3 separate regions of the Homo sapiens genome follow, and regions 2 and 3 are each linked to region 1. The links come from fine-mapping of genetic effects on gene expression. A gene starts in region 1. Each other region holds a variant in brackets. All regions are shown on one strand. Distances are between the middles of the regions.

Region 1 (5,233 bases):
ATGCACTGAAGAACTCTTCACTAAGTGCTGTATTACTTCACAAAATACTATGGCATTTATAAAAAACCACTTGGCTTAATGTAGTTATGACTATCACACACAAAGATACACATAAAACTTACAAAGAAATGTCATCAGAACATTTTAATATTAATTCAGATGATATTATAGCCCTGAAGTTGCAAAACTGAGGCCTGGTCATGTTAAGATACAATCAGGAGACACACTTGAATACCTGGTAACAAAAAATGACTCTGACTTCTTTGTATATTTGAGTCCTACCCACACTTTTAAGACCAGCCTAAAGTTAACTTTCCTTATCTGTCCTACTGCTTGTGGGATCTATAACTACACATTCTGGAACACATACACAGTTTTAATGTTATTCAACTGTTTTGTGCTGCTAGTCTTATCACCTCATTGAATTAAACACAAGTTCCAAGAGGGCAAAAACTGTATGTCCCTACAGCATTACAACAGGGCTAGGATTCCAGATGTTTTCATTGACTTTATCTGTACCACTTCTTGCTCTGCAGAACAACTTACTCAGATGTTCATTAAATAACATTTCTTGATTTCTAGGAAAGGTTGATACAGGGGGCTAAGAAGGCAAAAAAGTACTAGGGGGACATTTTAAAAGCTTATTATATTGTAGAGCAGACAATTCTTTAGTCAAGAAAAATATTGTGTAGTATGTAAATGCTTTGGCAGTTACCCCAGCTTTGAAGATCTTGAAGAGCTATGCATGGATTGTCTCCAGTTCTTTTTTGTATCTAAGCAGGCTTTACCTAATGACAGTGGTTCCTCACATAAGTTCCAGTGAACTTCAGGATTCCATGAGGCTGCTCTAAGACTTGACTGATAGATGGATGGCCATGATCGCCGTGTTTAATCTGAGGTTGTTCCTGCCCAGGTACCAACTGAGGTCGTTAGGCTTCAGGTATAAATGGAAAGCCTTCCTATTAATCAAGGAGAGGTTTTCCATCACCGGAGAACACTCTGATGTCCTCAGGAATGACACACAGGTGCCTGTACACAGTTTTGCCCCTAGTCTCAGGACCATTGGCTAGCTTATGCATGGGGGTTCCCTGCCTTCCAGGGAAATAAAACTGTAGCTGTAATTTTACTGTTATTTTAGTTTTTTTTTTTTTTCCTTCCGTCTCCTTGAGAGAGGCAGACAGGGGAAGTAAGAATAATGGTTTCAGCAGCTCTGGCCCTTGAATAAACAGCAAGGAAGGGTTCCATCGTCAGGGTCCATTATACATAAAGTGTGCACACCTAACCTACTGTTTATGTAAACAATGGTTATAATTCCCAGGAAAAAAAGATGGCCTCCAGCTCACTTACTCTGTAACCCGTATCTTGATGATTAGTTCCTTTGTCTCTACTAGAATTTCCAATCCATCATTAACCCTCAGTCAAAATGCTGAAAATGGTGACATCACTTAATATCCTAATTCTAGTAAAACAGGGCTAGAAAATACCTTCATAAAATTAAGTTTAAATAATAAATCTCAAGTATTAGTGCTCTTAATATGCCATCTGTCTTCTTAAACTGGGAGTACCTTTGGATTTCCTTAATTCCTCTTGACCCACCCTTTCGTAAGTGAGTACGAAATGGGTGAGAATAAGACTTTGGCATCTATAGCATCTGATTAAATCTTTACTAGTAGTTATTGGTTGGTGAGATGCAGGACAATTTATGTCTTTAAGTCCCAGCTGAATGGGGGTAACACCGCTCAAGCTGTTTTCAGGATTAAATGAGATAATGCAAGTCAAATTCTGCACAGCGTGAGGGACACAGTATGTGCACAACAAACTCTAAGACTTTTAAACACTTTCAATTATTTTTAAAAAGTGGGGTAGGAGACAAGTTTCTACCCAATTTTTAGTAATAACATATAAGAAGGGGAAAGCTTTTGAATTTTTAAAACTTCAGTATTTTAAAATAATGCAGTCACTCTCACACACAAATTAGTCCATGGTCTTTGATAAAGCAAGACATTAGGTGTAATTTTGCTTCAAATTTAATACCCACACTCGTTGACACTGTTGGAAACACTGAGGCTGGCGGTGGGAGGGTGCAAAGCACTTGCTTAGGAACCAGCTGAGAAATCCTCACTGATTTCTCAGGGAGGAGGAAACCTTTCCCTTCCCTCCCCGGGACAAGTCGAAGCCCCACCCCGAGGGAGATTTGTGTCCCTGAATGTAGTAGTTGGTGTCCGGGGCCTGCGCAGAAGAGGACAGTCCGCAAGGGGCGGAAGACAAGACAAAAATGACTCCAGTTCGCTAGACGCGCAGAGGGGCGGATAGCGCGCGGACCCCGCCTTCCCCAACCGAGTGTGGGTTCCAGTCGCTGGGGAGGACCTGGTGGCCCCCTGACCTTGGACGAGCCATATTGGACGCCCCGGCGCCGTCCCGTCTTCCACGCTGCCAACTCCACCGCTCCCGCCCCGAACTGCGGGTAGGTCCAGGCCGCCAGGCCCCGCCTCGCCGGCCCCAGCCCTGATTGACACTGGAGTTGGTACATACGGGTCTGCAGCGGAGGCGAGCAGGAGGGTGAGCGCTATTTTAAACATGGCTTTCTCTTTCCCTTAGCCTAGGAGCCACCGCAGCGCACCCAGCCCGCGAGTACAGCCGCATGGGAATAATCCCAACATTTGCCTGATTTATTTTCTTCCCTCTCCTTACGCTTGTACTTGTTTTTCTCCTCTCGCTGTTTTCCCTTCACACTAATTCGCAACCTGGCAGTTTGCAAAGAGGAAACTCCCTTTCGGAATGGAAAGCCGCTTTTGCTTCTTGTTGTTGGGGGTGGAAAACATTCCAGCGAGAATGAGTTCAAAAAGAAGGGAAACCGCGTCACTGGAGAGAAAGTAACATTAAGAGATCGATGAGGACGGAGTGGGTAGGGGGGACAGAGAGAGGAACGTCTGCAACAGGCATCTAAAAACAAGCGTGGAGGAGCAAAGATTCCCAATCCCCGGGTTACTACCGCGCGCGTTCTGCGCGAGCCATTGCAATGCCAGCATTTACTGTAAGCAGAATTTGAAGGCTTTTGAAATCTTTTTTTGGTAAGACTTACCTTTCTCTTCGGCATAATGACTATGTCGGTGAAGCAAAAAGTAAAGCAACGGACTGGAACTGCTGGCGCCGCCGCTGGATGCTGCCTCTGCCTCTGCAGCTGCTCACGCGCAGGGCACGACGTAGCCCGGCCTCTTCGACCTGCACCTCCGCGGCTCCCTCTGGGGGCCCTCTGCTCGCCTCCCTGCTGCTCCAATGAGGAGCCCCGCCAGCCGGCCGCGAGGCCCCATTGGCTGAGGCAACGTTCTAAATTCCACGAGGGCACGCCCACCTCCGCGCGCGGTACGCGCTGTTGTAGTTTCCACTTCACCGAAAAAAATCTGCCTGGCGACTGAGCATGCCCAGTTCAACTAGTAGCCTCCAGGCCACACAATCCTGAAGTTTCATTGTTTCGCTGCTCTCTCTTTGAGATTGTAAGAATAAGAACAGTGTGTGTCTTCATAGGAAGGAAAAAGAGTAAGAATGAATACGTAAACTTTATAATGTAAATATATACACAGCAGGTACCTTATTCATTTCCTACCCATAAAGGCTTTTAATGAATGTTACATGGTGGGAATCTGTAAAGCGTGGGAAGGTACTCTGTACTGGAAGAGCGTGGCAACTTCTAAAGGCCTCAGTTTCCCCCCCTAGATATATAGTGACAACAGTCCCTAAAATCACTTAGCTCTAATTTTCTGAAATCTGTGATTATAAATCACTCACTAATTCAGCTAACTTCAAACTAGATGTGAAGACGAATAGGACATGTTTGTTACGGAAATTAGGAAAAGAAAGAACAAGGCAAAAACTGATTATTTTATATTTGAGACATATATTTGAATGACACCCGTCATGTTACACTTTATGCGTAATATTTCTCAAAGTTCTGCAAGGCATAAAATGAGCATTGCAAAAATATTTCTGAATTCATTTTATGAGACCAGATTTACTCTGATACCAAAACCAGTGAAAGACTTCAAAAGAGAGTTACAGACCAATATCACTCATAAACATAGACACAAAAGTCGTGAACAAAATTTTAGTAAATGAAACTCAACAACATTTAAAGGGACAATACATCATGACCTGTGGGGCTTATCTTGGGAATGCAAAGCTGCTTTTTTAATATCTGAGAATCAATCAATGTAATTGGCAGGATTAATAGAATAAAGGGGGAAAAACAATCCTTTCAGCAGATGCAGGAAAAGCGCTAGTGAATGGGTAAGCAAATTGTGATGAGCACATGCAGTGGAATACTATTCAGCAATAAAAAACAATAAAAAATTTTCCTACATGGATGAATATCAAAAACAAAGTGCTGTACGAAAGAAGTCAAATACAAAAGACCACACTGAATGATTGCATTCATATGAAATTATAGAAAAAGCAAAATTGGGCAAAGTTAGTTTCAGAATCATCTTAGCAGGCAAAGCTCACATCATAGGAAAATGTGTTGAAGCCTTACATTACAAATATGGCCAAATCCACTTTGGTAACACAGAGGCTGCAAATATGTATTAAAAATATCATGTATTAAATATGTATTAAAAAAGCAATGAAGTTTAATATTTCACTTTTTCTTTAGTAATTTTCAGAATACATTAATTGATCTAGTACTCTCCAGAGGTGGTTGATTACTTTCTTTTTTGGAACATCTTTATGAACTCATGGATTTTTACATATTTGGTGTGCATCAGTGTATTGCTATCATTATTATTACCTTTTTAATGCTCCTATTACCACATCTTTAGCCAATGCATACCCTTTCAAATTAGTGCTTGTGTCCTTTTGACATGATCTTAATCATTTTTGATAGATTCCCTGTTCTTGGGCATTCAGTGAATGACAATAGTATACTGAAACGAATTAAGATAAAAACCAATTGCTTAGAGCTAGATAAAAATTTACAAGTTAATAATTTTATCATTAAAATAATATTTATAATGAAGATGTCTTTCAAGATATTAATTTGCCAAATACTTGATAGTTAAATAAAGAAAAAGTCAGTGAAAACATTTTTAGTAAGATATGTGTGAGAAGGATACTGAGTAGCACTTGCAATCTGGACTGGATGGCTATTTTTCTTCATGGAGATGGAAAGGTGCCACAACAAAGGTAGTGCTAAGGTGAATATTTCTCCTCTGTGATGAAAAATAACTCACAAAATTGG
Region 2 (5,233 bases), 43 kb after region 1:
CATCACTATTTTTCTGAGCATTTGGAAAGAAAACTGTTGCATTTGTCTTAGATAAAAGACTCAGATAATTCCCTAGAAGCCTGAGGACAAGATTCTAGATCAATCCTCTAAACTAGGTTGATTCCTCATCCACTTTCTGACCTCCTACTTTCTTGGTGAGAAATGATTATTGACCCTCCTCAATGAGGGTGTAATGATAGAGCATAGTATTTTGTCCCCTATTGGATGTTGCATGGAGAGTTGGGCTGAAATTCTTCTGTGCAAGTGAGAAGCCATAAAGGGAAGAAAGGGTCAGACACTTCCAAATCTTTGGATTTTCTTAGTTCCTCTTTTGTAAGCCTCAATTGTTGTGTGTAGTCAGCAGGGTCCCAGAGGCAGACCACCACGGACCATCTTGGCAGTACTTGTCAGCAGCAGTGTCCAGCTCCCAGGGACTAACTCAGTTAGTGGTAGCTCTTGTTCCTAGTGACAGAGCCTTCCTGGGGCTGCTCCAGTAGCAGCCAGAGCTCCTAAGGAGAAGCAGCTCTGCCAGTCTTCCAAGTCCCAAGCTCCATCTCCTTCAGCAACAACACAGGTCTCCATTATTCTTTCTGAAGATACCCTTTGTCCCAGTTCCTACTGAATCCAGCAGTGTTTTTCAATCTGTGTGTTTCAGATGCCTGAGAAGTCACCAAATTACTGCAAGAACAAGTGAATTAATATTTACATAAAGTATGTATGTTAATAAGCTGAATAAATGTTAATAGTTACTGTACTTATACTCTGTACTGTACTAAGCCCTTTGCACACATTATCTCATTTAATCCTCATAAAAATGCTATGAGGTAGGTGTAATTATGACCCCCATTTTACAGGTGAGGCAACTCAGTCTCAGAGAGGTTAAGCAAATTGCTGAAGATCATGAGACCAGGAAATGGATAAACTGGTCTTCAAATCCAGGTCATTTAATCTCAAAGTCTACGATCTTAATCATAACATAAGTATGTCTCTTACATATGTGTATTACTTTTTTACAAATGTTTTTGTGTTTTGATTTAAAAGTTATAGATGAAAAGTATTATGTAATTTGTAGTAGATTTTTAAATCTTTGTTTATTTTCACTATTTTCTACACTGAAAGTACCTCAACTGCCATATGATTGGTACATGACACAGTCTTTTTAAAGAGCTCTTTCAAGGATTTTTACTCAAGGCCTTTAAAAAATATAGTAGAGAAAAATGACTTTGTAAGTCAATGGAACATCATATTTGTACCTGACCTCTTAGCAGCATTCTGTTGTTCCTTAAGCAGGGGACCCTATCACTGATTGATCCCTTGAGTCAAATAAGCAATGAGGCACCTCTCAAGACTTTGAGTTACATTCAAATCATCAATTCTGACACAAAAAATTGGAATAGACAAAACATGGTGAAATGAACTTAATTGACTAGCTATTTCATTCATTTATTCACCCATTCAATACATTTTATTGTCTCCTACCAGGCATTGAGTTAGGAACTAAAGATGCAGCCTTCCAAGCAAGAAGTGGTGTTTGTCAATTGCAAGAAAATGTGACACCTGACTAGTTACTTTGCCTGTAAAAACTCTTTTATTCTTTGTTTTTAATATTTATATTCTACATACCCTCACCCTCTAAAAATTTACTTAGCAAATGCAAAACTTAGGAAATATAGGCCAATTAGAGTTTCGCTCTAAAAAATAATCAGGTCCTACTTGGTCTGCTCCCCAGGGCTCTGAAACATCACTACCCATGGGTCACTCTACAGGGACCCTAGTTACCATGGCTGCTAGCTAAATCTTTGAATCCAGTTTTGTGCTTTACTGTGTGGGGGCTCTGCTTGGACACAAAGGAAGGATTACAGAGAAATTTCTCAAAAAGCCTTTAGTTCGTCTTTTGATTCTAAAGAAAAACTATGACTGATAGATTTTTGGGAAATGGCATTTCAAATCTTTAGGTTAGAATCAGAAGACAGGTTAGACAGGAGGAATTTAGGGGGCTTTTGCGTACTTGGAAATCAGCATCAAGACAGCCTTGCTGCTAGCCTCAGGAATAAGGCCTACTTCTAAAAATTGGGTTTGGCCATGGCCTCTGGGCCTGAACCCTTCTTAACCTCAGTCTTTCTTTTTTTTCCTAACATGTCAGCAGTGCTGAAGCCTTGCTAACTGCTGGCAGACTTTTCTAGTGCTGTCTGCTTGTAGCCTGTCCTGGATCCCCCATAATTGGGCACTGCCTAC[T/G]TGGTCATGTAGTGGTGAATACTCTTTTTTGGCTTACCTTTCACGTGGATGTTGCCCTGCCTATTGATAACCATTTTTCATTCATTCAACAAATATTTATTGCATGCCAGGCATTGTTCTGGGACCTGGAAATATAACAGTGAATAAAATAGACAAAACCAACAACAATGACAACAAAAACCCCTTGCCTTCATGAAGCTTCACATTCTAATAGATAGTGAAGTCTGATGAGCTGGCTTGCTTCCTCATCAGCCACAGCTGGATACTTTCCCCTATAACTGCACATTCTGTTTCCAGGTCCTAATTCTCTATAGTCTGTGGTCCCACTGCAGCGAAGGAAACTGTCCTCTTACAGGATAAAGAGTGTTATATGAAGAAAGGAAACAGGACCAAAAGCAAGTAAATAGGGGTGGCATAAACTTAGAGATAGAAATATGTTCAGGTTTGCAAAAATTCGAGGAACAATAAATAAAACTTTTAAAGTGTATTTAACAAAGAGAAACAAAGATGCAGCAGCCTACTGGGTGTAGTTTAGTCAGCAGTGATCTATTACTGAAAGATTACTTAGAAAAAACCAAGCTCCTCAACCTCAGTTTTACTTGTGTCTTTTTGCAGAGGAGAGTAGGGAGAGGAGTAGGAGGGAAGGAGAGACTCCTTAGCAAGAGAAAGAGAAGCCCAAAGTGGGAGAACATAATTATATTCTAAATAGTTTCCCAACTCTGATAACTTGCATCCCAGTGTTCTGTGGAAGATGTTCAAATTGCATTGCTGATCTAATCTGGAAAGAATGTAGAACTGTAAAGGGTGGTAGAAGTGGCAGGAAACTGGGCATGGTTAAATACTGTTCCCATTTTGAAGAAGTGGGAGATTTTGCATAATAAACATCAGTGACTAGATGTTGGATATTTAAAGGTATATAAACTATTTATTGATAGACAAGGCTTATAGATTTATTTCTTCTGGGACACAAACATGATGTGGCCATAGAGGCCAGTGGCCTCAGTATGCTTAGTCTTGGACATGAAAGCTGAAGTATCATGTCTTGGCTGGATGCAGTCATTCATGCCTGTAATCCCAGCACTTTGGGGGGCCAAGGTGGGAGGATCGCTTGAACCCAGGAGTTCAAGACCTGTCTAGGCAACATGGTAAAACCCTGTTTCTACAAAAAAATACAAAAATTAGCCAGGCATAATGACACACACTTGTAGTCCCAGCTACTCAGGAGGATGAGGAGGGAGGTTTGTTTGAGTCCTAGGAGTTGTAGCCTGTAGCAAGCTATGATCCCACCACTGCAATACAGCCTGGACAATAGTGAGATCCTACGTCTTGAAGAAGGAAAGAAAGAAAGAAAGAAAGAAAGAAAGAAAGAAAGAAAGAAAGAAAGAAAGAAAGAAAGAAAAGAAGAAAGAAAGAAAGAAAGAAAGGTAGGAAGGAAGGAAAGAAAGAAAGAAGGAAGGAAGGAAGGAAAGGAAGAAAGAAAGAAAGAGAAGGAGAGAAAGAGAGAAAGAGAAAAAGGGAGAGAGAGAGATAGAGAAAGAAGAAAAAAAAGAAAGAAGAAAAGAAAGAAAGAAAAAGTGGCATGGTCTCTGGTGGGGAAGAATCTTCTTTATTTGCTGCAGATCTTCACAGAGCTTGTTGTCCAGACCTTTGGCCAGGACTCAGCTGTAATTTCCATCCTTCACGTCCTTCTGTCTGTTTAAGAACCAATCTGGGATCTTGTACTGGCCTGGGTTTGGCATGATGATGATCACACATATCACTTCATGCTCAGTGAATCCTCTAACCTCTTGATGAGGTCAATCTCTGTTTTCCCCAACAACACATGAGCATGTTTTCATCTCACACTCTTAATGGTACTGATGGTAAATTTCTGCCATCCATTGATGTTGGTGTTGAGTGCAGTCGTCCCTTGGTATGCACAGTGTATTGGTTTCAGAACTCCCAGAGGATACCAAAATCCTTGGATGCTCAAGTCCCTTATATAAAATGGTGTAGTATTTGTATATAACCTATGCACATATTCTCATATACTTTAAATCATCTCCTGATTACTTGTAATATCTAATACAACATAAATGCTATGCAAATAATTGTTACACTCTATTATTTAGGAAATAATGACAAGAAAAAATGTCTGTGCATGTTCAGTAAACACAACCATCCATTTTTACCAGGTATTTTTTAATGCAAGGTTGGTTGAATCCTCAGATGTCGAGCCCATGGATACTCTCCACAGCCAGAGAGAGAGTACTGACTGCACTTGCAAAAATTGCTGGAGTATAGCAGGGATTATGAGAGATATGGTAGTAGCATGTAGACCTCCTGTGGGAGAGAAATAGTGGATTTTTTAAAAGTTTGTTTGGAAGCTTCTAGATTAGGATTGGGCAAACTATGGCCCACAGGCCAAATGCAACCCATTGCTTATTCTTGTTAATAAAGTTACATTCCAAGGAAGCCATGCCAATTTATTTATGCATTGTCTATGTCTGCTTTCATGCCACAATAGCAGAGTTGAGAAGATTATCATATGGCCTACAAAATTCTAAATATTTACTTCTTATGTATTGCTTTATAGAAAACTTTGATTCTAGGTAGAAAAAGCACTGGGCACTAGGACTTGAGTTTGCTAGGAACAGTTACGTCCAATGAAACAATAATTTCTTTTTGGTCAGACTTTCCAGACAGAACAGGGAAATGTTATTCACACTGAGCATCTGGTCTTCACTAAAAATTCAACCACCATTTCTTGAGTATTTACTATATAACAAGCATTCGGAATATAAAGATGAAAAATTGTGTGGAACAGGAGCCACATACATAAGGGGATAATTCCAAATAAAGTAGTACTTGCTATGAGAGGAGTGTGTCCAGAATGGTGCAAGAGCTCTGAGGGGGACGTTTACTAAATCTGGGATTTATAGCAAAGGAATACAGTGGGATCAGTGGGTAGAAAATTACTAAGAGGAAACATCAAGGATAGACGGCCAGAGAGTTTCTG
Region 3 (5,233 bases), 110 kb after region 1:
TGTGAAAAATTTTTGGAAGAGACAGAAGCAGGGGAGATCAAGAGCTCGTGTGGATGGGTTAGCATTAACAAGGGAGCGGAATATCTTTTGAGAGATTACAATGAGGTAAGAAAGAATTATGAAGATAGGGATTGTGACGGTTAATTTTATGTGCTAATTTGGACAGAATATGGTGTCCAGTTGTTTAGTGGAACACCAGTCTAGATTTTACTGTGGATGCCTTTTTAAAGATGTGATTAACATTTAAATCAGTAGACACTGAGTAAAGCAGATTACTCTCCATAAAGTAGGTAGGCCTCATCCAGTTGGTTGAAGGCCTTAAGAGCAACACTGAGGTCCCCTGAGAAAAAATGAATTCTGCCTCCAGACTGACTTTGGACTTGACGCTGCAATGTCAACTCTTCCCCTGGGTCTCTGGCCTGCTGGCCTGCCTTGCAAAATTTGGACTTTCCAGCCCTACAATTGTGTTAGCCAATTTAAAAAAATAAATTTCTCTCTCTCTCTCTCTCTCTCTCTCTCTCTCTCTCTCTCTCTCTCTCTATATATATATATATATATATATATATATATATATATATATAATATATATAAAATAAAATGATGACAAGTTTCTCACCTTATTCTGTAAGGCTAGCATGATCTTCATACCTTAATTGGACAAGGGTAGTAGAAAAAAGGAAAACCACAAGCCAAACTCAGTTATGAACATAGATACAAAAAACCTAAATAACAAAATTCTGACACATGTTAAAATGAGGGATATATCATGGCTAAGTAAGACCTAGCTCAGTAATTGAAGGATGGCTTGCAATAAAAAAATCTCTTAATGCATTTTGGAAGAAAAATCCCTATTACATCCATTCCTTATCTGAAACAACAGCAGTGGCAACAAAACTAAAACATTATTACTAAGCTATGGCTAGAAAGACCATTCTTCAACTTAAGTATATGCATCAGAGACTACATATATATACACACCATTTTAATATGAAACACTATGATCATTCTTGCTTAAATAAGAAACAAGACTTGGATGCTCTCTCTATATAAACACAGACACAGACACACACACATTGCTATTCGTTCTGTTCCTTTGTAGAACCTTGATAAATACTGTATTAGTCCATTTTCATACTGCTGTAAAGAACTGCCCAAGACTGGATAATTTACAAAGGAAACAAGCTTAATTGACTCACAGTTCAGCATGGCTGGGGAGGCTTCAGGAAACTTAATATCATGGCGGAAGGTGAAGGAGAAAGCAAGGCACCTTTTTCACAAGGCAGCTGGAAGGAGAAGTGTCGAGTGAAGTAGGAAGACTCCCTTATAAAACCACCAGATCTTGTGAGAACTCACTCCTGATCACAAGAACAACATGGGGAAAACCATCCCCATGATTCAATTACCTCCACCTGGTCTCTCCCTTGACAGGTGGGGATTATGAGGATTATGAGAATTAAAATTCAAGATGAGATTTGGGTGGGGACACAAAGCCTGACCATATTAAATACATTGAAATTTAGTCGATATCTGTGGAACACAATATTTCTGAAGGGACTATTACCCAACCGAAGTCTAGACTGATTAGCACCAGGCTGGAAACAGCTGAGTCCAACCAACATCAGAAACTGTTTTGTTGTATCCCCACATTTTAATAGATACATACACACAAAAACATTGCGCACAATCTTAAACAATCACTGTTAACGTCTCAGTGTAATTTATTTACGTCTTTTTTGTATACACGTTTTTAACATGTTGAAGGCACATTATTCACACAATTTTGTAACTTGCTTTAAAATGACTTTTATTACTTTTATATATTCTTTTTTATAAATAATTTGTTACATCTATTCTTTTTTTGTAAATAATTTTAACTTTTCAATTCAGAGGGTACATGTGCAGGTTTGTTACAAGAATATATTGCATGATGCTGAGGTTTGGGGTACAAATGATCCCATCACCCAGGTAATGAGCATGGTATTCAATAGGTAGGTTTTCAACCCTTTCCCTCCCAACCTCCGCCCTCTATCTGTCCCCAGTGTCTATTGTTGCCATCTGTATGTCCATGAGTAACCAATGTTTAGCTCCCACCTATAAGTGAGAACATGTGGTATCTGGTTTTCTGTTCCTGTGCTAATTCACTTAGGGTAATGGCCTCCAGCTGCAGCCATGTTGCTGCAAAAGACATCATTTCATTCTTTTTAACGGCTGCATAGTATCCCATGGTGTATATTACCACATTTTCTTTTTTCCAATCTAACTTTCAAGCTGAGAGTCAAATCAAGAACTCAGTCCTCTTTATAATAACCAAGAAATATATAAAATACTTAGGAATACATCTAACCAAGGAGGTGAAAGATCTCTACAAAAAGAATTACAAAACACTGCTGAGAAAAATAATAGATGACACAAACAAATAGAAAAACATTTCCTGCTCATGGTTTGGAAGAATCAACACCATTAAAAATGGCCAGAATGCCCAAAGCTATCTATAGATTCAACACTCTTTCAATCAAATTACTAGCATCATTTTTTTTACAGAAATAGAAAAATACTACTGTAAAATTCATATGGAACCAAAAATTTAAAAAAGCCCCAATAGCCAGGGCAATCCTAAACAAAAAGTTTTATATATTCTTTACTAAAAATCAGAAAATATAGAAAAGGAAAAGGAACTTTGAAAGCCATCATAATTCCACTGTCCAGAGGAACCATTATTTACGCTTTTGGGTGTAAACTCCAGATTTTTTTTCCTCTTTCAATTGCAACTTTAAAACATCTCTAGTTGTCATAAAATTAAAAAAAAATACCTAAAT[C/G]CCACATTTCTCCTCTCAGACAAATTGTGTGATATGGCAAAAGAGGGTCTAGTTGGCTCTCCCAACCCTCTCTGGGTGTCAGTATGGTGTCCACACTGAGTTAAGAAGCACTGGGCCCCTCATGGAGACTGCTGGGGAGAAATGAGGTTTTAGCATGGACCTCTAGATTGGAGGCCATGTGCAAGATGGAATAAAGACTTAGAGTGGTCTGCAGAGCCACTGAGAATCCAGCAAGGAAGTAATTAGGTCATTATAATCCTACCCTGTTCTCTATAAACATAAAAGAAGTGAAAAGAAGAGGGAAACTGAGAGATTGAGTGGAAAAGACTGGGTTAAACCTGAGTTTATATTATTGGATAAGACTAAATTTTAATCTGGATTGGGTTAACATTAGATTGCTCACCACTCCATCTCCAGTGAGTAGGTGAGATCTCTTGTAAAGGAAATCAGAGAAATTTTAACAAATAATTAACTACATTTCTATGGACATCTGAGTTGAAGAAAATTTTCCAGTGACTATCCATTTATAATAAAATTTTTACTGTTAAAGGAAAAATTTTAAAAGGAGTGTAATTGTGAATGGGTGGCAAAATTTTATTTAACTCATTAATTAATGAGGGAATCAATAAAATGTTACAACTCATTTCAAAGGAGTATTCAAAGAGAAAACAAATATATAGACATGCTAAGACTTGAAAAATGAATACAAACTGGCAAATTAGGTCAATATCTATAGGGCAGTAATCAGTTGTATTCCCCTAGACAATATTTGCATTTCTATAAACAAAGTCATTTGCATTATTATCAGCTTTCTAGTTTTCTACAATTTACAGACTTGCAAAGTAGCTCAAAGCCCACAAAAGGCTGCAAAACCCCGAAGAGTACACTGGGCAGGACACCCAATATATTTTTGTCTACGTACACTAAAAAACAACCCTATGTCCCCCACCAAACCCCACCTTCCAAGAGTATATTGGAATGGGAAAGTTTAAAGGTAGAAGTTTGGGCATGCCTGAAATGATCTACATTGTAAAATTGGGAGGCATTTAAAGTTAGGAATAGGGGGCAGGATTAGTAGGCAGAATATTGGTCCCCTAAACATGTCCATGTGCGAATTCCCAGAACCTATGAATATGTTACATTATGTGGCAAAGAGGTATTTAAGATAGTAGATGAAACTAAGGTTGCTAATCAGCTGATCTTAAAATAGCGAGATTGGTTTGGACTCTTGGGATAGACCCAAGGGTTCATAAATGTGGAAAAAGGAGTCAAAAGAGGAGGTCAACAATGTGAAGTGAGAACTCTACGCACTGTTGCTAGCTTTGAAGATGGATGCCAAAGGCCAAGGAGGCAGCCTCTAGAAGCTGGAAGGGGCAAGGAAATGGATCCTCCCCTAGAGAATCCTCCAGAAAGGAATGCAGCCCCACCAACTCCTTGATTTTATCCCAGTGAAACCCATTTCAGATTTCTGAACTACAGAACTTTAAGATAATAAATCTGTATTGTTTTAAGCCTCTGATCCTCCTTGCTCTTTCATGTATAAGGACCCTACATAAGGGATCCTACTTATATAAGTCCTTACATTGGGCCTGTGTAAGTAATCCAGGATAATCTCCCCACATCAAGATCCCTAATTTACTCACAGCTGCAAAGTCACTTTTGTTATGTAAGGTTACATATTCACAGGTTCTAGGGATTAGGATGCAGGATGTGGTACATCGTTGAAGGATCATTATTCTGCCTATCACAGAACTTCTGATTCTATTTCAACATTTTTTCTTGTACTTTTGTGCTCTTGCTTTCACATAATACCTTGAGAGAATTGCTTAGTCTTTCAATTCACTAACTTGATCTTTTATGTTCATTCTGTTAGATAATCTGTTTTTAATTTCAGTAATCATGTTTTAATCAAGAACTCCAATCTGTGTGTAGTATGTGTGAACACAACCCCTTGTATCTCTGAAAATAGGATTTTCAGAGATATTTGTTTGGCTATTTTATTCTATTTTCTATGTTAACTCTGTTTTCTTGGGAGTTAAATCTCTTTGTTGGAATTTATGTTTTCTTTGCGCTAGGTTTTTCTCAAATACTTGTTGACTCTTTCATTTCCAGACTGCTTTCAGATGAATGTTTAAATAACATAGTATTTACCTTTAGAGTACATTTCATTTCTTCAAAGTGAAGCTTTTCATTTCTATGGTTGGAATAAAGGTTCTGCTTTTAGGAGCACTGGTGACTGTAAGCAGGGTGTGAGAAAAGCTTCAGTCTCAGGAGGTGATGGTTAAAGCTGTGCAATGGAACATAGCAATTAAGGGGGGCTCCAATACCACATCAACTGGAGTCAAGTCCTGGCTGTGCCGTACACAGCATATACAGGAAAATTTACCTAACCCGTTTGTGCTCCAGTTTCCCTGTCT

Evidence for each region.
Region 2: its variant is fine-mapped to the expression of HMGN3-AS1 in whole blood (INTERVAL, PIP above 0.99).
Region 3: its variant is fine-mapped to the expression of HMGN3-AS1 in lymphoblastoid cells (GTEx, PIP above 0.99).

The regions. Positions count from the first base shown.
Region 1 is chr6:79,231,464-79,236,696 of GRCh38, forward strand. It overlaps HMGN3-AS1 (HMGN3 antisense RNA 1), which reads left to right and starts at 2,211. Exons shown (of 2, transcript NR_040671.1): 1 at 2,211-2,464; 2 at 2,599-5,233. HMGN3 (high mobility group nucleosomal binding domain 3) reads right to left here and starts at 3,219. Exons shown (of 7, transcript NM_001201363.2): 1 at 3,083-3,219. The coding sequence starts at 3,097. RefSeq lists enhancers at 1,757-2,547, 2,548-3,337 and a silencer at 2,495-2,544.
Region 2 is chr6:79,274,295-79,279,527 of GRCh38, forward strand. No RefSeq gene overlaps it. Among named protein-coding and RNA genes, the nearest start is that of LCAL1, 36 kb to the right of the region's middle. The variant T/G (reference allele first, on the strand shown) is at 2,236.
Region 3 is chr6:79,341,230-79,346,462 of GRCh38, forward strand. No RefSeq gene overlaps it. Among named protein-coding and RNA genes, the nearest start is that of LCAL1, 30 kb to the left of the region's middle. The variant C/G (reference allele first, on the strand shown) is at 2,817.